3 separate regions of the Homo sapiens genome follow, and regions 1 and 3 are each linked to region 2. Evidence: fine-mapped expression QTL. A gene starts in region 2. Each other region holds a variant in brackets. All regions are shown on one strand. Distances are from middle to middle. Region 1 overlaps CIB3 (calcium and integrin binding family member 3). Region 2 holds the start of FAM32A (family with sequence similarity 32 member A). Region 3 overlaps AP1M1 (adaptor related protein complex 1 subunit mu 1).

Region 1 (8,176 bases), 21 kb before region 2:
AAAAAAAAAAAAAAGAAAGAAAAAGCTGGCCGGACGCAGTGGCTCACACCTCTAATCCCAGCACTTTGGGAGGCCAAGGCAGGTGGATCACCTGAGGTCAGGAGTTCAAAACCAGCCTGGCCAACATGGTGAAACCCCGTCTCTACTAAAAACTACAAAAATTAGCCAGGCATGGTGGCTTGCGCCTGTAATCCCAGCTACTCAGGAGACTGAGGCAGGAGAATCGCTTGAACCTGGGAGGCGGAGGTTGCAGTGAGCCAAGACCAAGCCACTGCACTCCAGCCTGGGTGACAGAGCAAGACTCCAGACTGGGTGACAGAGCAAGACTCCATCTCAAAAAAAAAAAAGGCTGGGGACGGAGGAGGCATCACAGGGCCATGATGGTGGAGGGCTCTGGAGGGAATCCTAGGTTGTGGGGCTGTGTGACCTTTGGCAAGTCTAGACATCTCTGGGCCTACTTTCTTACCTGGAAAATGAGAAGAGCAGTCCCTCTTCAGGATGAACTGGCAGAATGCATGTAAAACCTGGGACTTTGGTGCACAGTAGGTGTTTTTCTTTTTTTTTCTTTTTCTTTGAGACGGAGGAGTTTTGGTCTGTCGCCCAGGCTGGAGTGCAGTGGTTCGACCTCGGTCCACTGCAACCTCTGCCTCCTGGTTCAATTGATTCTCCTGCCTCAGCCTCCTGAGTAGCTGGGACTACAGGAATGCACCACCACATCCAGTTACTTTTTGTATTTTTGGTAGAGACAGGGTTTCACCATGCTGCCCAGGCTGGTCTCGAATTGCTGGGCTCAGGCGATCTACCCGCCTCAGCCTCCCAAAGTGTTGGGATTACAGGCGTGAGCCACTGTGCCTGGCTCCTTTTTTTTTTTTTTTTTGGACAGAGTCTCGCTCTATTGCCCAGGCTGGAGTGCAGTAGCACGATCTCTGGTCACTACAACTTCCCTTTCCTGGGCTCAAGCGATCCTCCCACCTCAGCCTCCCAAGTAGCTGGGACTACAGGCATGCACCACCACACCCAGCTAATTTTTGTATTTTTGGTAGAGACAGGGTTTCACCACGTTGCTGAGGCTGGTCTCAAATTCTTGGGCTCAGACAATCTGCCCACCTTGGCCTCCCAAATGCTGGGGTTACAGGCTTGAGCCACCGTGCCCAGCCCAGTAGCTGCTTAATTTATTAGCGGGTTAAGATGGGAGTGAGCTCTCTAGACATGACATACTGTACAATGGAGGTGTCTGGGAAGGTCCCTAGGGGCTGGTCTTGGTTGCAGGAGTGACTACTCCTTGGACTGACTGGGGCATAGATGGGGGCCCTGGGGCAACCCCAGGTGGAGGGGGTGTGGGGTTCCCCAAATGTACAAGGTTCAGACATCTGGGATCTGGTATGAGGTGCACCTGGGTTCAAGCCCGCCCCTGCAAATGACTTGTGGGGTGGCCTTAGGCAAGTCACTCTGCTCCCTCCAAATGAGGGCATGATCCTCGGCCAACTCTGCAGGGATGTTATAGGGGGTCAGTGTCACGTTAGGGGGCAGATGCATCATAAACTGTAAAGTGCAGCAGCCACCTCAGTGAATGACATTTCCACCCCTCCCAATCAGTGGTCTCCTCTTGGCAGCTCTAATGAGTCAGCCCGGGAGGAAAAGTTTCAATCCCTTTGATGACTCAGGGTTTGAGGGATAAAAAGAAACTTGAGTAGTGAAGGGTGAGGTTTGGCCTTCAGAGTGGGAACCCTGGGGTAGGACAGCACGGGCCCGATCTCCCCACCACCTCACCTCCGCCACGGACACCCACAACAAGGCATTTCCAGCCTTCACAGTGAAGACGATCTAGGAGTCACCCCTTCCTTGTACAAACAGGGAGATCGTGGCCCAGAGAGGGTGTGGCCACACTCAGGGTCACACAGCAAAGTCAAAGATAAAATTCTACGCCGCCTCCCTCCCATCTTCCAGTTTTAAGGTGGAAAAATGTGTCCTCCCAGCAGGTGTGACTCAGTGACTTGTGTTTATTCTCAGAAACCAGAGTCCACAGCGGGTGAGGGGTCACCCCGCCCTCCTATAGCTCGGCTCCTCTGTGGTGCCATCAGATTCGGATGTGGAAGGTGCTGTGTGCAGAGAGAAAAGGAGTCAAGGCCTTCAAGGAGTGGACAACCCCTTTTCCTCCTCCCCCTCAACACGCTCACGGCAAGTCCCTGGGACAGGCAGGAAGGATGCCACATGGACCCCTCAAACAACCCTAGGCCGGGAGACCCCTACAGGGGCTGAGAGCACATGCCTTTAATTTTTTAATTCTTTTTTTTTTTTTTTTTTTTTTGAGATGGGGTCTTGCTCTGTCTCCCAGGCTGTAGTGCAGTGGTGTGATCTTGGCTCACTGCAACCTCTGCCTCCTGGGTTCAAGTGATTCTCATGCCTCAGCCTCCCGAGTAGCTAGGATTACAGGTGCATGATACCACGCCCAGTTAATTTTTCTATTTTCAGTAGAAACGGAGTTTCTCAACTTGCTTTGTTGCCCAGGCTGGTCTGGAACTCCTGTGCTCAAGCGATCCACCCACCTTAGCTTCCCAAAGTGCTAGGATTACAGGCATGAATCACCACATCCTGCCATATGATATAAAGTTTCAAATAGCTAGAAGAAGGATACTGAATGTTCTCAACACAAATAAATGATACATGTTTGAGATGATGGATATGCTAATGACCCTGATCTGCTCATCATACATTATATGTATCGAAACCATTATGTGGCCTGGTGCAGTGACTCACCCCTGTAATCTCAGGACTTTGGGAGGCCAAGGCAGGAGGATCAGTTGAGGCCAGGAGTTTGAGAACAGCCTGGGCAACAAGGCAAGACCTTGTCTCCACAAAAAAAAAAAAAAAAAAAAAAAGTTTTTAGTTAGCTAGGCGTGGTGGTGTGTGCCCGTACTCCCAGCTACTCAGGAGGCTGAGGTGGGAGGATTGCTCTTGAGCCCAGGAGGTAGAGGCTGCAGTGAGCTATGATTGTGCCACTGCACTCCAGCCTGGGCAACAAAGTGAGACCCTGTCTCAACATTTTCAGCACTGCCTCAGCTTATAGATAAAAACAAAAACAGGCCGGGCATGACGGCTCACGCCTGTAATCCCAGCACTTTGGGAGGCCAAGATGGACAGATCACCTGAGGTCAGGAGTTCAAGACCAGCCTGGCCAACATGGCGAAACCTTATCTCTACTAAAAAAATACAAAAATTAACCGGGCGTGGTGGCGGGCGCCTGTAATTCCAGATACTCGGGAGGCTGAGGCAGGGAGAAGTGCTTGAACCTGCGAGGTGGAGGTTGCTGTGAGCCGAGATCGTGCCACTGCACTCCATCCTGGGTGACAGAGCGAGACTCCATCTCAAAAAAATAAAATAAAATAAATTAATTAATTAATAAAATAAAACAAACAAAATTAGCCAGGCACAGTGGCACGTACCTGTAGTCCCAGCTACTTGGTTTATTCTTATTTTATTTCTTTTTTCTTTTCTTTTCTTTTTTTTTTTTTTTTTTTTTTGAGACAGAGTCTCGCTCAAGCTGGAGTACAGTGGCGCAATCGTGGCTCACTGCAAACCTCCACCTCCCAGGTTCGGGTTCAAGTTACTCTCCTGCCTCAGCCTCCCGAGTAGCTGGGACTAGAGGTGTGCCCCACCATGCCCAGGCTAATTTTTGTATTTTTAGTAGAGACTACTGCCTCAGCCTCCTAAAATGCTGGGATTACAGGTGTGAGCCACTGCGCTCGGCCCCGTAGTCCCAGCTACTTAGGAAGCTGAGGTGGGAGGATCTCTTGAGCCGAGGAGTTAGAGGCTGCAGTGAGCCGATTGCACCATGCACTGCAGTCTGGGTCACTGAGTGAGACCCTGTCTCAAAACAAACAAACGGGCTGGGCGTGGTGGCTCACGCTTGTACTCCCAGCAGTCTGGGAGGCCACAGTAGGTGAATCACTTGAGGTCAGGAGTTCAAGACCAGCCTGGCCAACATGACAAAACCCTGTCTCTACTAAAAATACAAAAATTAGCTGGGCATGGTGGCACGTGCCTGTAATCCCAGCTACTCGGGAGGCTGAGGCAGGAGAATCACTTGAACCCAGGAGGTGGAAGTTGCAGTGAGCTGAGATTGCACCACTGCACTCCAGCCTGGGCAACAGAGCAAGACTCCGTCTCAAAACAAACAAACAAACAAAAAGAAACATCACTGTGTACCCCATGAATATGTACAATCATTATTTGTCAATTCAAAAAATAAAAAATAAAGTGAAATTTAAAAATTATAAGATAATAATAGCAACAGCAATTTATTAAACACCTATTGTGTGCCAGGAGCTGTGCTGAATTTTCTCCATATATTAATTTGGGGTTCAGCAAACCTTTTTCTGTAAATGGCCAAATAGTTGATGTTTTCAACTTTATACCATGACGCAACTCTGTTGTTGAAGCACACAAGCAGCCATAGACAAAATGTACACAAATGGGTGTGGCTGTGAGCCAATACAACTTTACTGATGGACACAGAAAAGTGAATTTCGTATCACTGTCACGTGTCATGGAATAATCTTTTTTTAAATTAAAAAAAAATTTTTAATGTGTTTATTTATTTTTGAGACAGAATCTCACTCTGTGACCCAGGCTGGAGTGCATGGCACAATCTGAGCTCACTGCGGCCTTGACCTCCTGGGCTCAAGCAATCCTCCCGCCTCAGCCTCCCAAGTAGCTGGGACTACAGGCATGCACCACCATACCTGGCTATTTATTTATTTATTTATTTGTAGATATGGACTCTCCTTATGTTCCCCA[G/A]TTTGGTCTCAAGCTCCTGGGGTCAAGAGATCCTCCCCACTTAGCCTCCCAAAGTGCTGGGATTAAAGGCATGAACCACCCCACCTGGTTGGAATATTATTATTCTTTGATTGTTTTTTGATCTTTTGAAAATATAAAAGCCATTCTTAGCTCACAGGAGGTACAAAACCAGGCTTTGGGTCAGACTGGCCTATTGGCCGTACTTTGCCCTGCAGTGGCGGCTGATTTTCCCCAAAGGCTGCCAAGTACAGTTACACAGTCTGTTCACTGCAAACTGTTCAGGCAACAAGGGCTGAAGTCCAGCCACATTCTGCTTGCTGAAAGAGGTGTATCCACTCGCAAGAGGTGCCCAGGGGGTCCCTAATTATCCCCATTTTACAGATGCAGGGACTGAGACTAGGGAAATTGAGAAAGTTTCCCAAGGTCATGAAAGAATGAATAGAGGAATTTTCAGAAACAGAGTCTGTGAACTGTCTGCGTAAGAGCCCCTTCAGATGTGCAAATGGACTGTGGGCGGTGACGGAGAGCATCACCTGAGGAAGTCTGGTGCCCGGAGGATCATGTTCTGGAAATCTTCCAGGGACAGCCGCCCATCATGGTCTCCATCAGCCTCATCCAGCACCTTCTCACATACCAGGCTCACCTCCTCGGCACTCAGCCCCCCCCGCGTCAGTTTGGTCACCGTCTGCTCCAGGTCCCACGCACAAATGTAGTCGTCGTTGTTAAAATCTGCAGAGCAGGATGGATGGGGAGTGACAGCAGGTGGCAGGAGGGCTAGGCCGGCTGTGGGCACATACTGTGCCCATGTTACAAGAAGGGGAAACTAAGGTCGGGCACGGTGGCTCACGCCTGTAATCCCAACACTTTGGGAGGCTGAGGAGGGTGGAACACCTGAGGTCAGGAGTTCGAGACCAGCCTGGCCAACATGGTGAAATCCCATCTCTACTAAAAATACAAAAATACCCAGGTGTGGTGGCATGCACCTGTAATCCCAGCTATTCAGGAGGCTGAGGCAGGAGAATCACTTGAGCCCGGGAGGTGGAGGTTGCAGTGAGCCAAGATCTCACCACTGCACTCCAGCCTGGGCAGCAAGACAGAAACTCCGTCCAAAAAAAAAAAAAAAAAAAAGGAACTGAGGCCCTGGGAGGGCACCCGAGACCCTGGTGTAAAATCTGGAACTTGCCTTAAAATTGGGCAGGGACCTGCTGGGAGTTCATTCATTCATTCAACAAGTATTTATGCAATGAATTTTTCATTCGTTCTTTTTTTTTTTCTTTGAGACGGAGTCTCGCTCTGTCGCCCAGGCTGGAGTGCAGTGGCACGATCTCGGCTCACTGCAACCTCCACCTCCTGGGTTCAAGTGATTCTCCTGCCTCAGCCTCCCAAGTAGCTGGGATTACAGGTGCCTGCCACCATGCCCGGCTAATTTTTGTGTTTTTAGTAGAGATGGGATTCCCCATGTTGGCCAGGCTGGTCTCAAATTCCTGACCTCAGGTGATCCACCCACCTCGGTCTCCCAAAGTGCTAGGATTACAGGTGGAAGCCACCACACCCAACCTCATTCATTCATTTTTACAAGCATTGAGTGCCTGCTGTGTGCTAGGCACTGTAATAACTTTTTTATTCACTCATACAAGTATTTATTGAGCATCTACTATGTGTCAGGCATCACAGTAACTGATTTTCATTCACTCACTCACTCAACAAGTATTTATTGAGTGCAATTTTCATTCATTCACTCACTTAACAAGTATTTATTGAGTGCCTACTGTGTCCTGGCACTGTGATAATAATTTTTCATTTACTCATTCAAAAAACAGTTATGGGCCCGGCGCAGTGGCTCATGCCTGTAATCCCAGCACTTTGGGAGGTGGAGATGGGTAGATCACCTAAGGTCAGGAGTTCCAGGCCAGCCTGGCCAACATGGTGAAACCCCATCTCTACTAAAATTACAAAAATTAGCGGGGCGTGGTGCGGGTGCCTGTAATCCCAGCTACTAGGTAGGCTGAGGCAGGAGAATCGCTTGAACCCAGGGAGTGGAAGTTGCAGTGATCTGAGATCGCGCCATTGCACTCCAGCCTGGGCGACAAGAGTGAGACGCTGTCTCAGTAAAAAAATAAATAAATAAAAATAGTTATTGAGTGCCTACTATGTGCCAAACACTGTGACAGCTCTTTCATTCATTTATTCAAGTATTTCTTGAACACGTACTACGTATCAAGCACCATGATATCTGTTTTTCATTTATTCACTCACTCAACAAGTATTTATTGAGTGCCTACTGTGTAGTGGGCACTGTGATAACTTTTTTCATCTATTCACTCAAAAAGTACTTTTTAACTGCTTACTGTGCACCAGGCACTGTAATAACTTTTTCATTTATTCATTCATTCATTCATCCATTCAGGAAGTATTTATTGAGCACCTACTACATGTTGGGCACCATAACTCTTTTATTCACTCACTCAACAAGTATTAGTGTCTACTGTGTGCCAGGTACTCTGATAACTTTTTCATTCATTCATTCATGCAACAAGTATTTATTGAGCACCTACTATGTGTTGGGCACCATGATAACTATTTTTCATGTACTCACTCAAAAAGTATTATGGTGGCAGGGCACGGTGGCTCATGCCTGTAATCCTGCCACTTTGGGAAGCCGAGGTGGGTGGATCACTTGAGGTTAGGAGTTCAAGACCAGCCTGGCCAACATGGTGAAACCCCATCTTTACTAAAAATACAAAAATTTGGCTGGGCGTGGTGGTTCATGCCTGTAATCCCAGCACTTTGGGAGGCTGAGGCGGGTGGATCACCTGAGGTCAGGAGTTCGAGACCAGTCTGGCCAACATGGTGAAACTCCGTCTCTACTAAAAATACAAAAAATTAGTCAGGCGTTGTGGCAGGCACCTGTAATCAATCTCAGCTACTCAGCAGGCTGAGGCAGGAGAACTGCTTGAACCCGGAAGACGGAGGTTGCAGTGAGCTGAGATCGCGTCACTGCACTCCAGTCTGGGGGACAGAGCAAGACTTTGTCTCACAAAAAAAAAACACACACACAAAAAAAACAAGTATTTATTGAGTGCACACAAGGTGCCAGGCACTAAGATAACTGTTTTTCTTTCATTCAGTCATTCAACAAATATTTACTGAGCCAGGCTCAGATGACAGGTGGTGAGCAAAATAGATACTGTTGGTACCTTTGAGTCTTCTCAGGGACAAAGTCAATAAGAAGTGAACAGGTCAAGGAACAAGAAATTAAGCAGCATTGCCTGGTGCTAGAAGAGAAATAGGATGGTGGGATGGGGGGATGAATGGGGAGAGGCCTACTTTTGACCTAGACTTCAAGGGTAAGAAGGAGCCAGGGGAGCTGGGTGCGGTG
Region 2 (8,176 bases):
ACGTGAACCACCATGCCTCGCCTCTGTTTATTTCTTAAAACTGCATGTGAGCCTTCAATTATTTCAAATTAAAAGTTTAATTAAAAAAATTACTTCCCCTCCATTTAAACACATTTTGTTTCACATTTTAATACCTCCAAAATCAAGATGCATCTCGAAAGTACTGTTGGAGCATTCTCATTGCCTATACATGCACACCCATTAAAAGCATCCGCTTCAAAACTCACAGAATGGAGGCAGAGGCTAGGAAGAAAATCCCCTAGGATGTGAGGAATGGGGGTGTGGAATCCCATGCGCTTAGCTACATTCCTGAAGTGGGAGCTCACTCAGCAAGCCTGACATTATTGCAAAGCTGGCTAGAAAGTCAAGCCCCACCCTCACTTAATTCCTTTACAGATTCTTTCTTTTCCCTTTTTTTTTTTTTGGAGATGGAGTCTTGCAGTCTTGCTCTGTCACTCAGGCTAGAGTACAGTAGTGTGACCTCGGCTCACTGCAACTTCCGCCTCCCAAGTTCAGGTGATTCTCCTGCCTCAGCCTCCCGAGTAGCTGGGATTACAGGCGCCTGCCACCACGCCTGGCTAATTTTTGTATTTTCAGTAGACACAGAGTTTCGCCATGTTGGCCAAGCTGTTCTTGAACTCCTGACCTCAGGGGAACCACCCGCCTCAGCATCCCAAGGTGCTGGGATTACAGGCATGAGCCACCATGCCCAGCCTCTTTCTTTTCCTAATAAACTTTTAGTTTTGAAATAATTTTAAATTTACATTAAAATTGCAAGGATGGGCTGGGCGCAGTGGCTCACACCTGTAATCCCTGAACTTTGGGAGGCAAAGGCAGGCAGATCACTTGAGGTCAGGAGTTCGAGACCAGCCTGGCCAACATGGAGAAACCCCATTTCTACTAAAAATACAAAAAATTAGCCATACGTGGTGGTATGTGCCTGTAGTCCCAGCTACTCGGGAGGCTGAGGCAGGAGAATCGCTTGAACCTGGGAGGCAGAGGTTGTAGTAAGCGAGATCGCGCTGCTGCACTCCGGCCTGGATGACAGAGCAAGACTCTGTCTCAAAAAAAAAAAAAAAAAATAGCCGGATGTGGTGGCACATGTGTGTAATCCCACCTACTGCAGGGGCTGAGGCAGGAGAATTGCCTGAACCTGGGAGGTCGAGGTTGCAGTGAGCCAAGATCGTGCCACTGCACTCCAGCCTGGGTGACAGAGTGAGACTCCATTTCAATAAACAAATTAACTAATTTAATTTAAGTGCAAGGATGATACAGACAGCTCCCATAACCCTTTTGACCTGCTTCCTCTAATGGTTTTTTTTTTTTGTTATTTATTTATTTATTTATTTTTGAGATGTAGTCTCACCGTGTCACCCACGCTGGAGTGAAATAGCAAATGGCAAAATCTCGGCTCACTGCAACCTCTGCCTCCTGGGTTCAAGCGATTCTCCTGCCTCAGCCTACCCAGTAGCTGGGGCTACAGGTGTGCGTCACTACGCCTGGCTAATTTTTGTATTTTCAGTAGAGGCGCAGTTTCATCATGTTGGCCAGGCTAGTCTCAAACTCCTGACTTCAAATGATCCACCCGCCTCGGCTCCCAAAGTGCTGGGATTACAGGTGTGAGCCACTGAGCCCGGCTCTAATGTTAACATCTTACACAACCACAGCATATTTAGCACTACTAAGAATTTAACATTGGCACGTTACTATTTCTTTTTCTTTTTTTGTAGTTTTTTTTTAATTTGTATTCAAGACTCAACATAATCATTTTCTTTTCCTTTTTTTTTTTTTTTTTTTTTTTGAGATAGGGTCTTGCTCTAGTGCCCAAGCTAGAGTGCATCAATCAAGATCCTAAATCACTGCACCCTCGAACACCTACACCCAGGCTCAAGTGATCCTCCTGCCTTAGCCTCCCGAGGAGCTGAGACCGCAGGTGTGCCCCGCCACATCCGGCTAATTTTTTTCTTTTCTTTTTTTTTTTTTTTTTTTTTTTTGAGACGGAGTCTTGCTCTGTCGCCAGGGCGGAGTGCAGTGGCACGATCTCCGCTCACTGCAACCTCCGCCTCCCGGGTTCAAGTGATTCTCCGCCTCAAGCCTCCTGAGCAGCTGGGATTACAGGCTCGCGCCACCACGCCCGGCTAATTTTTTTTATTTTTAGTAGAGACGGGGTTTCACCATGTTGGCCAAGATGGTCTCCATCTCCTGACCTCGTGAGCCGCCCGCCTCGGCCTCCCAAAGTGCTGGGATTACAGGTGTGAGCCACCGCGCCCGGCAAAAAGATCGCCTTGCTTTTGACACAAAAGTGCTGGCAGCCCCCATCCCCTGGTACCAGAAGCCCCTCTGCACAGTCTTTTCCAGGTGTGGACGGATAATTAGGCAGTGACTTGCTGCCCCCTGCAGGTAAGACTGAGAAAGGCAGCCCCTGTGCCCTCCTTTTTCTTGTGTCCGGTAGATTTGGGGACGTTTGCTTCTCTCTTCTCCACCTCCTTTGCCTTCTCCCCACTACCCCACCCCCCGCCAGCAATTAAAAAAAAAAAGCCACCCTGGCACAATTTGGACAAAATCTATGAGAAATAAAACGTGCAAACGTGCATAACCTTGGACCTAGTAATTCCATTGGTTGCAAAAGTCAGCCAAGATTTGTGGGCACGGATTGTGTTCATTCATTTATCTAGGGCAGTATTAGGGCTGTTTCTAATTTGTTGGCTATTACAAATAAATCTGCAGTGAACATTCATTTACACAATTTTATATGGGTCTATACTTTCATTTCACTTGGGTTAAAACGTAGGAATCTAATTCTTTTGTCATAGTATAAGTGAATGCTTAATCTTTTAAAGAACTGTCAGACTGATTTCTAAACTGTTTATGCCATTTTACATTCACAACAGCAGCACGTTTGAGTTCCAGTTTCAACACATCTTCACAGATACTTGGTAGGCACAGCCTTTTTAAATTTTTCCCATAATAGTTTTTTTTTTTACTAGGTTTTTGATACAGAGGGAAATAGAGAAGAAACCAAAAATTCCGATAGTCCTCTGCTGACATTAAAAAGATATATTCAAGGGCCGGGCACGGTGGCTCACGCCTGTAATCCCAGCACTTTGGGAGGCTGAGGCAGGCGGATCACCTGAGTTCAGGAGTTCGAAACCAGCCTGGACAACATGGCAAAACCCTATCTCTACTAAAAATACAAAAATTAGCGGGGCATGGTGGTGGGCGCCTGTAATCCCAGCTACTCAGGAGGCTGAAGCAGGAGAATCTCTTGAACCTGGGAGGTGGAAGTTGCAGTGAGCCAAAATCGTGCCACTGCATTCCAGCCTGGGCAACAGAGCGAGACTCTGTCTCAAAAAAAAAAAAAAAGATATATGCATGTACACATCGTATGTAAGAAAACCGCACAGTACTGAAAGGATGAAAAGAAAGAAAGAAAGGGCCAGGGGTGGTGGCTCACGCCTGTAATTCTAATGCTTCAGGAGGACTGCTTGAGGACAGGAGTTTGAGACCAACCTGGACAACACAGCAATACCCTATCTCTATTGATTTTTTTTTTTTTTTTTTTTTTTTGAGACGGAGTCTTTGTCTGTTGACCAGGCTGGAGTGCAGTGGTGCGATTTTGGCTCACTGCAACCTCCGACTCCCGGGTTCAAGCGCTTCTCCTGCCTCAGCCTACCAAGTAGCTGAGACTACAAGCGCAGGCTACTATGCCCAGCTAATTTTTGCTTTTTGTGTTTTGTTTTGTTTTGTTTTAGTAGATACAGGGTTTCGCCATGTTGGCCACGCTGGTTTCCAACACCTGACCTCACGTGAACCGCCTACCTTGGTCTCCCAAAGTGCTGATTTAAATATATATGTACTTTTTTTTTGAGATGGAGTCTCTCTCTGTCGCCCAGGCTGGAGTGCAGTGGTGTGATTTCAGCTCACTGCAACCTCCGCCTCCCGGGTTCAAGCGATTCTCCTGCCTCAGCCTCCCGAGTAGCTGAGACTACAGGCGCCCGCCACCACGCCCAGGTAATTTTTTGTATTTTTAGTAGAGACGGGGTTTCACCGTGTTAGCCAGAATGGTCTCCATCTCCTGACCTCGTGATCCGCCCACCTCGTTTTCCCAAAGTGCTGGGATTACAGGCGTGAGCCACCGCGCCCGGCATAAAATAGATTTTTAATTGTTTTAACATACCACCAACCTTGTCACATGATATTGTCATTTACCTAAAGCTGAAAAATTAATGAATACTGATTAGGTTTACAAAATTAGGTTCAGCTATCCAGTGAACGCTCAAAATATGGCAATAAAAGAGAACGGGGGTGGTGGGGCGTGGCTCAGGCCTGTGATCCCTGCGCTTTGGAAGGCCGAAGCAGGAGGATCACTTGAACCCACGAGTTCGAGACCAGCCTGGACAACACAGCGAGACCCCATCTCGACAAAAAAATTTAAATGAAAATATTAGCCGCGCTCAGTGGCGCCCGTCTGCAGTCTGCTACTGGGGAGGCTGAGGCGGGAGGATCTCTTGAGCCCAAGGGTTCAAGGCTGCAGTGAGCCACGATCGCGCCACTCCACTCCAGCCTAGGTGACAGACCAAGATCGTGTCTCTAAAAAAGAAAAAAAAATCAAGGAGAGAGAACAGGTCACCCAAAAGTGCGCAAAACGCTCAAAAAGGGGTTGGGTTTCCAGCACCCTGTGTGAAGAATGGGAGACCGGAAGTGGGCGCCAAATTCGGAAGTGTGGCAGCAGATAGGAATCGAAGGGCACTCATTCGCTTGGCTCTCTGTCCCGCCCACTACCCGGAAGTGTGGCCCGGGTCCAGAACCAAGAGCGCATGCTCACCTTGTAGCTCAGCCAATCAAAGAGAAGCGAGGCGGCCATTCGGGCGGAAATAGTGTTTGCAAACAGGAAGTGTGGCACTCCAGCTACCGAAGCACTGGAGAGTGTCATGGAGGCCTACGAGCAGGTCCAAAAGGGACCCCTGAAGCTGAAAGGCGTCGCAGAGCTGGGAGTGACCAAGCGGTGAGGCCCGAGGGCCCGCGGGATTCCGTCTTCATCCCCCTTAGACCTTTTCTCGGGACCCCTGGCCCTGATCCTCCGACCCGCCGCCTCCTCATGTCTTTTTCCAGGAAGAAGAAAAAGAAGGACAAAGACAAAGCGAAACTCCTGGAAGCAATGGGAACGAGCAAAAAGAACGAGGAGGAGAAGCGGCGCGGCCTGGACAAGCGGACCCCGGCCCAGGCGGCCTTCGAGAAAATGCAGGAGAAGCGGGTGAGCAGAAGCAGAAGGCGGCGGGGAGGCGGGAACACCCGGCGCCGGGAGACTGGAAATTGGGGTCAGGGCTGGGACGCTCCGAGGGCAGGGGAGCGGTCAGAGGAGACCTTAATTACGGGGAGAGGATGCTGTACGTGAGTGAGAGAAGAGTCGCCCTCTGCCGGGGGAGCTCCAAGGATGAGAAGACCCCGCTGGCCCGAGTGGGCAGCAGAGGGGAGAGCTAGAACTGGCGTTGAAAGGAGGCCAGAGCTGGAGACCCGGGTTTGGATTCCAGTGCTGTGGCTTATTTGCCCTGCGACACTAGGCCAGTGACTTTCTTATTTCCGTGCCTCAAGTTTCCTCTTCTGTACGAGTCAGGGTAGTAACTTATTCTAAGAGGGTTGGGAACTTGAGAGGAAGTCATGAAAGTAAAAAGCAGTGCATACATGTTCAGTGGATGCCAGCTCTTGATATTAAATGGCCATGCTCGCCGCTCGAAGTCACCACAAAGTTTGTTTCCAAGACAACTTTGTTTGGCAGATTCAAACATGCTGTATTTTTTAAAAAATTAGTTATTTTTGGCGGGGTCAGAGCACTGCAGCCTCTGCCTCCGGGGTTCAAGCAATTCTCCTGCCTCAGCCTCCCGAGTAGCTGGGATTGCAGGCGCCCGCCACCACACCTGGCTAATTTTGGTATTTTTCGTAGAGATGCGGTTTCACCATGTTGGCCAGGCTGATCTCGAACTTCTGATCTCAAGTGATCCGCCCGCCTCAGCTTCCCAAAGTGCTGGGATTACAGGCGTGAGCCACCGCACCCAGTCTCAGCTGTTGATATTGAATGGCCATGCCCATGACGACTTTGTTTGTATTGTATTATAAGGCTCCGATAAATTATTTTTTCTTAACACCATAAATGTGTGCAGTGGAGAACAGAAGAGTTCACAGTAAGACAGAAACTGGGTCCATTATGCTGGGGAGAGGGAATAATCAGTGTAGGTCAGTGATTCTCACCTGGGGGTAGTCTCCACCCCCCTAAACTCCCACCCCGAAGCACATGTGGCAATGTCTGGAAACATTTTTGGTTCTCAACTGGGTTGGGGTGGGGACTACTGGCAACTAGTGGCTAGAGGCCAGGGATGACACCACACACCCTGCGATACACAGGACAGCCTGCCGCAGCAAAGAGTGATCCGGCTCCAAATGTCAGTAGCACTGAGGCTGAGAAACCCTAACCCTGGTCTAGGTGATTCTGTACGGTGACACTGGGGAAAATGGACCTTGGGGACAATTAACTCCTTACTCCCAGATCTAATTCAGGCATACAGAAAACACATGGATGCACTACCTCTGGCATGACAGACCTGAGTTTGACTCTGCCTCTACCACAAATTAGTGGTGTGACCCTGGGCAAGCCGGCTACCTATTACTTAAAGTAGCACTAAAGTCTGCCTCACAGGGTTGTGGTAAGGATTTAACAAGTCAGGCGGGCGGATCACGAAGTCAGGAGTTCAAGACCAGCCTGGCCAACATGGTGAAACCCTGTCTCTACTAAAAATACAAAAATTAGCCGGGCATGGTGGCACACACCTGTAATCCCAGCTACTTGGGAGGCTGAGGCAGGAGGATTGCTTGAACCAGTACCCGGGAGGCAGAGGTTGCAGCGAGCCGAGATCACGTCACTGCACTCCAGGCTGGCAACAGAGTGAGACTCCGTCTCAGTGAGACTCAGTCTGGCTCTGTCACCGAGGCTGGAATGCAGTGGCTCGATCTCGGCTCACTGCAACCTCCGCCTCCGGGGTTCAAGCGATTCTCCTGCCTCAGCCTCCTGAGTAGCTGGGATTACAGGCGCCTGCCACGACGCCCATCTAATTTTTTTGTATTTTTAGTAGAGATGGAGTTCCACCACGTTAGCCAGGCTGTTCTTGAACCCCTGACCTCAGGTGATCCGCCTGCTTCAGCCTCCCAAATTGCTGGGATTACAGGCGTGAGCCACCACGCCCGGCCTTTTTTTAATTTTTTGAAAAAGCCTCGCTCTGTTGTCCAGGCTGGAGTGCATTGGTATGATCTCAGCTCACTGCAACCTCTGCCTCCTGGGTTCAAGCGATTCTCCTGCCTTAGCCTCCTGAGTAGCTGGGACTACAGGCGCCCACCACCATGCCCAGCTAATTTTTGTATTTTTAGTAGAGACGGGGTTTCACCATGTTGGCCAGGCTGGTCTCGCTCTCCTGACCTCAAGTGATTCACCCGCCTCAGCCTCCCAAAGTGCTGGGATTACAGGCGTGAACCACCATGCCTGGCCAAGTAAATGCATTTCTTTCCCTTCTAACCCTGAGGTTGTAGTCAGAGGCAGGGCTGAGATTTTATTGCTGGAAGCCAGAATGAGACTTATGCGAGACTTAGGCAGCTATTAAGAGACTAATAATGGGAGCTCAGAGTAGAGCAGTCGTGATGGAGCCAGTGGAAGGTAACAGGTTTGGAATAGGTTTTCAAGGATGAATTCAGGGTTAGCTGTTGGGTTGGATGTAAGCTGGGAAAGAAAGAAGAGTCAAGGATGACCAAGACTTTGGGCTGGGCAGTTTGATGAATGAAGGTGCTGTTTACTGGGGTGGGAAGGATTGCAGGTAAAGCAGGTTTTCTGGAGTGGGAGTTGAGGGAGGGGGAACCAAAGCTATAGTTTTAAAGAAGGTAAATGCAGTGCCCCAGTAGAAATCCAAGTGGAGTCAGCCAGGCACAGTGGCTCATGCCTGTAATCCCAACATTTTGGGAGGCCGATGTGGGAAGATCAGTTGAGCCCAGGAGTTCAGGACTAGCCTGGGCAACATAGCGATACCCTGTCTCTTCAAAAACTAAAATAGTAGCTGGGTGTCACGCCTGTGGGCAGAGCCCAGCCAGGTGCCTGGCATTGTGTGGCAGCTGGACAAGTCAGTGTGGCTTCTCACAG
Region 3 (8,146 bases), 48 kb after region 2:
GGCAGGGCAGAGGGAGGGATGAGGAGCCTTGGAAGCTGAGCAGACAGGAGGATGAAGATGAAACTCCTGAAATTAGGTCTTGGGAGAGTCTCGAGGGCAGGAGAAGGGGTGGGTAGTGCCTGGAGAAGTGGGGCCAGGGGCGGGGCTAGGGAGGATCCCCCGGGCCAGGCTGAGGGGCATGTGTCCTGGAGAGGCTGGCCAGCTCACCTTGGCCTCCATAACCCCGGGCCGCATTGGCCTGGCCTGCAGGCCAAAAGCCAGTTCAAGCGGCGGTCAACAGCCAACAACGTGGAGATCCACATTCCCGTGCCCAATGATGCCGACTCACCCAAGTTCAAGACGACGGTGGGGAGCGTTAAGTGGGTCCCCGAGAACAGCGAGATCGTGTGGTCCATCAAGTCCTTCCCGGTGAGCACTCTGTCCAGACATCCACGTGCCCCCTGCGCCTGTCTCTGCAAGGCAGCCTGGGTGCCTCAGGACCCCCTGCACCTCAAGATGGGGTGACAGTGGCCACTGTGTCTTCCACACCTGGGGCTTCTGAAAGGGTGGACGGAGAGCTGAGGACTGGAGTGGGAGGAAGCAGAGGCTGACTCGGCCCCTGGGCCCCTTTCTGCCTTCCTCTTGTTTGTGAACCAGCCTCTGTCTTCACCTCAGGGCAGTGCCCTCTCCCTCCCTCTCTGTGATGCCCCTGAGTACTGATGTGAGATGGGGCTCCTGTCCATGCAGGCCCTGAAGGAGCCCCGTCCACACTGGCAGGTCCAAGGCCCTTTCTGTGCAGGCTCAGCCTTGCCTGCCATCAAGGGGAACGGCTGCCTGTAGGCCGGAGCAGCACAGCCTCCAGAGCTCCGCACCAGCCGCCCATGTCCTGGGCCAGCTCTGCATCGGCGTGGCTTCCCTGACAACATGTTAAGGATTCTGAGGAGCTGAGTCTGGGCTTGCCGGGTGTACACAGTGCACAGAGAGGCTAGGCCCAGGCATGGCTCTGGAGCTGAGCCGGGTGGCACTGACCTGCTCCACCAGGGGGGCTCAGGGCAGGCGCTGCTTTCCATGTTCTCCCCTCTCTCTCCATCTGCATCCCAGGGGGACTTGGGGACAGCCCCAGCTGAGTTAAGCTGGAAATGCTGCAATTCAAGTGCCTTGAATTTCATGATGGTACTTTCCCTCCCAGCCTCAGTCTAATCACATGACATAAAATACAGAAAGTAGAGGAAGGAGAGAGAAAAGCCAGTTACCCCACCACCTAATACTCCCGTCAGCCTTTCCGCGTGTCTCCTCACCTTTCTTTCTGCGTATTTTGCTTTTCCTCATTATGTGCAAGTAGAGCCAGCTCAGTGCCTGCCCTTCCACGTGGCGCTGCGGCAGAGCGTTTTCCTTCTGGTATTGACTGTCTTCTTGGCGGTCACCTTTGGGAGCTGTGGATATTCCATGGAGGGGTGGTGACCATCCCGGATAGTTGGATTAGCTCCTCTTTTCCTGCAATTCCACTGTTGAAAATAGTGTTTATCATTTAAAACACACTGGGAGAATACTTCATCAAATAAACAGCATGGTGAGCTGTAGACGGGGGAGGAAGGGACAGGGCTAAGGGCCGAGACACAGGCTGGCGTGGACTGTGCTTGTGTAGATTTTACTTCGAAGCCATGCACAGGCACACCTCATTTTATTGTGCTTCCCAGATACTGCATTTTTATTTTTGTTTTAGTTTTTAAACAAATGGAAGGTTTGTGGCAACCCTGCGTTGAGCAAGTCTGTTGATGTCATTATTCCAACAGCATGTGGTCTCTGTGTTGTCACTTTTTAGCAATAAAGTATGTTTTAACTAAGGTATGTACATTCTCCTAGACATAATACTGTTGCACATTCAGACTACAGTATACGGTAACCTTTTTTTTTTTTTTGAGACGGAGTCTCGCTCTGTCGCCTAGGCTGGAGTGCAGTGGCACAATCTCGGCTCACTGCAACCTGTGCCTCCCAGGTTCAAGTGATTCTCCTGCCTCAGCGTCCTGAGCAGCTGGGATTACAGGCATGTGTCACCACGCCTGGCTAATTTTTGTATTTTTAATAGAGACGGGGTTTCACCATGTTGGCCAAGCTGGTGACGAACTCCTGACCTTGTGATCCGCCTGACTCAGCCTCCCAAAGTGCTGAGATTACAGGTGTGGGCCACCGTGCCCGGCTGGTAAACGTAACTTTTACATGCACTGGGAAACCAAAAAATGTGTGTGACTTGCCTAACTGTGCTATGTGCTTTATGGCAGTGGTCTGGAACCAAACCTGCACTGTGTGAAGGTACACCTGTCAGTGCTTCCCATGCATAGAAAACAAAATTAAATCACAATGGAAAAAAGGTAATTCCTAAAAACCAAAAGCAAAATTAATTCATCAGCGTATCAAGTTGATGACAACCACAGAGACACGTCACTTCAAATAACACACCCTAAGGACAAAAGGAACTGCAAAAAATAAATTTTAAGAAATACAGAGAGGGCCAGGCGCTGTGGCTCACGCCTGTAATCCCAGCACTTTCGGAGGCTGAGGCGGGCGGATCACAAGGTCAGGAGATCAAGACCATCCTGGCTAACATGGTGAAACCCCGTCTCTACTAAAAATACAAAAAATTAGCCGGGTGTGGTGGTGGGTGCCTGTAGTCCCAGCTACTCGGGAGGCTGAGGTGGGAGAATGGTGTGAACTCGGGAGGCGGAGCTTGCAGTGAGCCAAGATTGCACCACTGCACTCCAGCCTGGGCAACAGAGCAAGACTCTGTCTCAAAAAAAAAAAAAAAAAAAAAAACACAGAGAGAGATTAGAAATACAGATTAGATAGATAGATAGATATCCTTCCCCCTTTCTTAGATTGCTCCATACTAAAAGTTTTTTTTTTTTTAGGTTAGTTTTTTTTGTTTCTGAGATGAAGTCTCACTCTGTTGCCCAGGCTGGAGTGCAGAGGCACGATCTCGGCTTACTGCAGAGGCATGATCTCGGCTTGCTGCAACTCCACCTCCCGGGTTCAAGCGATTCTCCTGCCTCAGCCTCCCAAGTAGCTAAGATTACAGGCACATGCCACCACACCCAGCTAATTTGTGTATTTTTAGTAGAAACAGGGTTTCGCTATTGTTGCTCAGGCTGGTCTCAGGTGATCTGCCTGCTTCGGCCTCCCAAAGCACTGGGATGACAGGCGTGAGCCACCATGCCTGGCCTATTGTGAATAATGCTGCTGTGAACGAGTGCACAAATACCTCTTCAAGATCCAGCTTCCATTTGTTTTGGGTGTATCCCCAGAAGTGGAATTGCTGGATCATATGGTGATTCTATTTTCAACTTTTTGTGGAAGTGCCATAGTGTAGGCTATTTGCTTTTAAACCTAGAGTGTTTCTCAGTCCTGTCCCTACTGCTGTCTGTTACCAGGTTAGGGAATTTGATATGTGCCCATGGGTGGCCATGGCACATGACACTGTCCACCTGGATGGAGATCTGGGCCGGGCCTTGCGTCCAGGCCTTCTCCTGGCTCTCTCTGCATCTCCTATAGCACCTGCTTCACAGAAGTTGCTGCCATGTTACTTCATGCGTGGGTACCTGTGACTATTGTGTTGTCCCTGTGGCTTATGGGACGGCAGCCTCTAGGATTGTGGCCTGTCCTCCTGTGCACCTTTCTCCCTTGTGATGATGGCAGCCCTGTCCTCTTTTGTCTGCCTTTGGCAGCACGCCTGTCAATGCCTGTTCTTCCTACCCGGGGAGCCCTTCTCACTGTGCCTTTGTGGCGTCGAGTGGGTTTTGGTGTGTGAGCCGGCGCCAGCCTACAGCTCTCATCGAGAGCAGAATTAAACCCACTCGGCTCAACGTGACGACACAGGCTGGGTGTGCAGGCCTCCATCGCCCCTGGCGTCTGCTTCCCTGCATTTTCTTTGTTTGTGTTTTCCATTTGGTCTTTGCTAAGGTTCAGATTTGGGGTCTGGCTGAGTGTTTGGGGCACAGGCTAGTCACCGAGCGGGTTTGTTCCCTCGCTGCCTGCTTTACCAGTTGCTGATGTCGCATCTTCCCCCCGTCATCCTCCTGGAGTCTGTACTCAGCACATGTCACCAAGTCAGGCAGAGTCCTCACTCTCACGCTGCCCTGGTGGCAGTAGGCAGAGATGAACCACTCGGCCCTGCCCCAGGTGCACGGGGACCGCCCCTGCTGTGAGGCAGAAACAGCCCTAGGCGGCAGTAGCTCCCACGGAACCTCGGCCTGAGCCCTGGGGAGCAGAGACTGTGGGGTCCCAGGCACAGCCAGAGCTGAGATCGTGCCCCCGACTGCTCAGGGCGAGACCAGGCGCTGGGGGTGACCAGGCTGCAACCTGTTGCTCCTCAAGGCAGAGAGAGGGTGAAGGTCACAGCCAGGACTCGGGTTCCAGTCAGAGCCACAGCCACCCCCTGCTCACCCTCAGGAGCAGGACCCAGGGCTGAATCGTCACTCAGTGCATGCTCCTTGGTTTCTTCCTTTTGTC[G/A]CCTCTCCCTGGTCATGGTTCTCACCTGGACACTCTCTTTTCTTTCACATGCTGTTCTGAGACTGGGCGTGTGGCCCCTGTCCCCAGCAGCCCTCCCCTGCCACGGTCATTACACACTCTTCCTTCCCATGGCCGGTCTGTCTAGTTCACCAGCCTTGGAGGAAAGTGCATTAGGGGAGCTGGGCGGGGGGTGCTGGGCCACTGCAGACCACACTGGCAGGGGCTTGGTGACTGGGGCTGGCAGCTTGGTGAGCTCAGCTCTGGGCGCCTGGGTATCCTCATGGGGCAGCTGGGCACCCCAGAGCAGGGGCTGTCCTTACCAGCCTGGGGCAGCACAGGGCCGAGCTTTGGCTCCCCAGCACAGGGGCTCATGCTCCCCTCCCTGGACTGGGGTGAGTGGTCAGTCTCTGCCCATCGCCACTAGGGCCAGAGCTGTTGGCTAAGCTGGGGCAGGGCCTAGGCCTGAGCGCCTCCCCCGTCTGCTCCCCAGGGCGGCAAGGAGTACCTGATGCGGGCCCACTTCGGCCTGCCTAGTGTGGAGGCCGAAGACAAGGAGGGCAAGCCCCCGATCAGTGTCAAGTTCGAGATCCCTTACTTCACTACCTCCGGCATCCAGGTACGTAAGGCCCAGGCGGCCGGGGCCCAGAACAGGGACAGAGGCCGCAGGTGACAGATATCAATGCAGCCAGCTTGGGAAAGGGTGTCAGTCAGCTGCAATCAGGACCCTGCTGTGCTGTGGGCCTCTGCCTCCCCACAGACAGGGTGAGGCCAGGCTGCCTCTGCTCAGCCCTGACCCCTGAGCTCAAAGCTCACTCATTCTGCCCCAAACTAGCATTTGAGGCTCTGCCGTCCACTCATGCCCCATGGGACCTCTTTTCCCTGGCACCCCCTCAAAAGCCCACAGAGGGAGGAGAGGCTCCCAGAGAGCCAGGGGCCTTCTGGCCGGGCCCCCCAAGCAGGCTGCTGAGGCCGTGTCTGCAAGCCACATCCTGGCTGCTCACCACTTCCAGAGGCGGCTCTGCCCTCCCACACATTTGCATGGTCCAGACAAATCCCTTTCACCCCCCTGAGGCCTGTGCTCATCCTGTCGTCATGGCCTCCCCTGCCAGCCCCAGGCTGCCCCAGCAGGAAAGATTAAGGGGGGACCAACAGGGCGGGAGCCTGCGGTGCTCAGGGCCCTGCTACCTGTGCCCCAGGTGCGCTACCTGAAGATCATTGAGAAGAGTGGGTACCAGGCCCTGCCCTGGGTGCGTTATATCACGCAGAATGGAGGTGAGTGAGGCCCTACCCGTGGGGTGGGGTTGTACTGAGGGGTCCTCTGTGGCTGCCCCCAGGGTGGAGCCATCGGGTCGGGTCCCGAAAGCAGGGAGGGTGCAGAGCCCAGCATGACGCCTCCCTCCTGTCTCCTAGATTACCAGCTCCGGACCCAGTGAGGGGCTGTCGCAGCCAACACCCCGGCCTCGGGGCTCCTGGTGGCAGCACCAGGGGACACACCTGCCAAACCCACCAGATGGAGGGGCCCTCCCTGGTCTCTGGCCACCCTCCCAGCCTCTGCCCAGGGACCCCTGCCTTCCCCAGGCCATCTGCTCTGCCGTCGACACTCGTCTCAGAAGCCCCTTTCCCAGAAGAGGCTGGTCTTCAAGAAGTCTCGTTTCTTTGCCCCTGAAGTCAGTTTCAGGGGAAGGATGTGAAATTTTTCCGTGTAGAGGTTACAGCCTTTTATGCTGTTGAGCTCCCAGGTACCAAAAAGCTTGGCCAACGCTTGCCAGCCAGCCAGCTGCAGGTGGCATCTGCCACGAAGGAAGCGCCAGCCTCGCCAGGCCAGCAGGGGCGTCGTTTTGTTGCCATTTTGTTGAACGTTATGGGTTTATGGGTGTTCCTGGAACTTGTCTTTGTGCATTCGTTGCTGTTTGTGTTACCCTCACTGTCCCCATGTCCCACCCACGTCCTACGGCACTCAGGAAGCACTTGGTGAGGACGAGCCCTCACCCTTCTTGTCTTCCTTCCCGGCAGCGCCCGCAGCGGGCCATTTACACGTCGAGGCTGGCACCTGGCGCGCTCGGGGGCCACTGTAGCGTCTGCCTGCTCCCTGGACTCGCAGGCCTCGCCTGTGGCGCCTTCCCAGGGCCAGCCTGGGTCACGAGATGCTGTCACTCAGCCAGATCAGTATTGACCCACCAGGGGAGGTGGGGTTTGGTGAGAGACGCCAGCCTCAGACTTTTTCCCACTGAGGGTCCAGAGAGCGGGGCCACGTGTCACCCACGTCTGCGCTTGGTCACCCGTCCTCCCCACCCTGTGTGTGTTTATGTCATAGTTACATTAAATTCCATTCATTGAATACTCCACAGCCTTCCTCTGATGCAGCGTGGTCCCAACTCCTCCTGCGTGACCACAGGGCTTGCCTGGTTTTGTCGCCGACCTTCCCTGTGGCCCCACGAGGTGTCACCAGCTCCCTCTGCTTCCCCAGCTGAAACACAGGAAAAGCAGCTGCGGGAAGAGGCAGCTGCAGTGCTGGACCATGGGCCACCACTCCTGGGCCACACAGAGGAGGCCACAGAGGCAGAGTCTTCTCTCATCCAATCTGCTGCACCCTCAGATGGCCAACAGCTTGTCCCCACCTCTCCCCAAACTGATGGCCCACTCAGAGCATGGTCCTTGTGTCCACAGCAGCATCCCCTGTGTCCTAGCTAGAAATGCAGGTTCGTGGGCCAGCCCTGACCTGCCAAAGTGGAGGCTCTGGGGCCAGGGTCCCGGAAAACATTAACAAGGCCCCCAGATGCTTCTTCTGTGAACTGCTACTTGGTCCATGGGGGAAATAGCACATATGCAGGAAGTGCTGCCTGCTCTTGGCCCCCTCCCCGACCAGTGCTGATGGCCCTGCCTGGCCAGCACCCTCTTGCCTTCATTCTCCCCCTCCCTCTCCTGTCTTGCCGAGCTCGTCCTCAGGTGTCTAGTGGGCATCCGACCTAACAGCCTGAGTAGAACCTTCCGCCCACGTAGGTCTTCCCCATCTCAGTCAATGACGCTGCCCCAGCCCAGGCCTCAGACCAAAGCCCTGAAGGCATCCCTGGGGCCCCTCCCCTCACTGTCCACACCCATATCAGCAGCCAGCCCTCATGGCCCCTCCAGAAAACCCTGGGGCTGACCCCATTTGCCATCCTCGCTGCCACCCCCGGGGCCTAGCTCCAGTGTGGGCTGTCACTGTCCCCACCCTGTGGAGCCCCCATGCTGGGACACCGCAGGGACAGGAGAGGGCTGGTCCACAGGACAGAAGAGAGACTTCAGTTTCCAGCAACTTATCAGATAAGACCTGCAAACCCTCCACTACAGACTGTAGAAATGCAGGAAATGAAGCAGACGCACCTAGCCGTGCCCATAAAAAAGCAAGGAGACCCACAGGAGCCCAAGACGAAGGAAGTAGACGCGGAAGACACCGTGGGGGCTCACACCGGAGTTGCTCTTGGAAACCACCGGGTTTAGGTTTGGGGGCCAGGTGGCAGATAGGACTTTGGGCATCGGGAAGATGGTGAAATGCAGTGGAGATGACTCCTGCGTGAAGCTGGGATCCTCGAGGGTCATGATACTTAACAGTAAAAAGATGGACTAGAAAAAACATTTGCCCTCCACCCCTGAGAATAAGCACTGTGTCCTCTCTCTGCCTGAG

Evidence for each region. PIP is the estimated chance that this variant, and not a neighbour inherited with it, causes the effect.
Region 1: its variant is the best candidate, but not a certain one, in a credible set for the expression of FAM32A in whole blood (INTERVAL, PIP 0.54).
Region 3: its variant is the best candidate, but not a certain one, in a credible set for the expression of FAM32A in adrenal gland (GTEx, PIP 0.69).

The regions. Positions count from the first base shown.
Region 1 is chr19:16,159,388-16,167,563 of GRCh38, forward strand. CIB3 (calcium and integrin binding family member 3) reads right to left here. Exons shown (of 6, transcript NM_054113.4): 5 at 5,331-5,526; 6 at 1,981-2,099. The coding sequence ends at 2,078. Among named protein-coding and RNA genes, the nearest start is that of CIB3, 10 kb to the right of the region's middle. RefSeq lists an enhancer at 891-980. The variant G/A (reference allele first, on the strand shown) is at 4,798.
Region 2 is chr19:16,180,512-16,188,687 of GRCh38, forward strand. FAM32A (family with sequence similarity 32 member A) reads left to right here and starts at 4,899. Exons shown (of 4, transcript NM_014077.4): 1 at 4,899-5,005; 2 at 5,113-5,254. The coding sequence starts at 4,932. RefSeq lists enhancers at 2,183-2,682, 3,906-4,541, 4,444-4,493.
Region 3 is chr19:16,228,521-16,236,666 of GRCh38, forward strand. It overlaps AP1M1 (adaptor related protein complex 1 subunit mu 1), which reads left to right. Exons shown (of 12, transcript NM_032493.4): 9 at 250-408; 10 at 4,973-5,098; 11 at 5,679-5,754; 12 at 5,893-8,146. The coding sequence ends at 5,915. Among named protein-coding and RNA genes, the nearest start is that of AP1M1, 35 kb to the left of the region's middle. The variant G/A (reference allele first, on the strand shown) is at 4,483.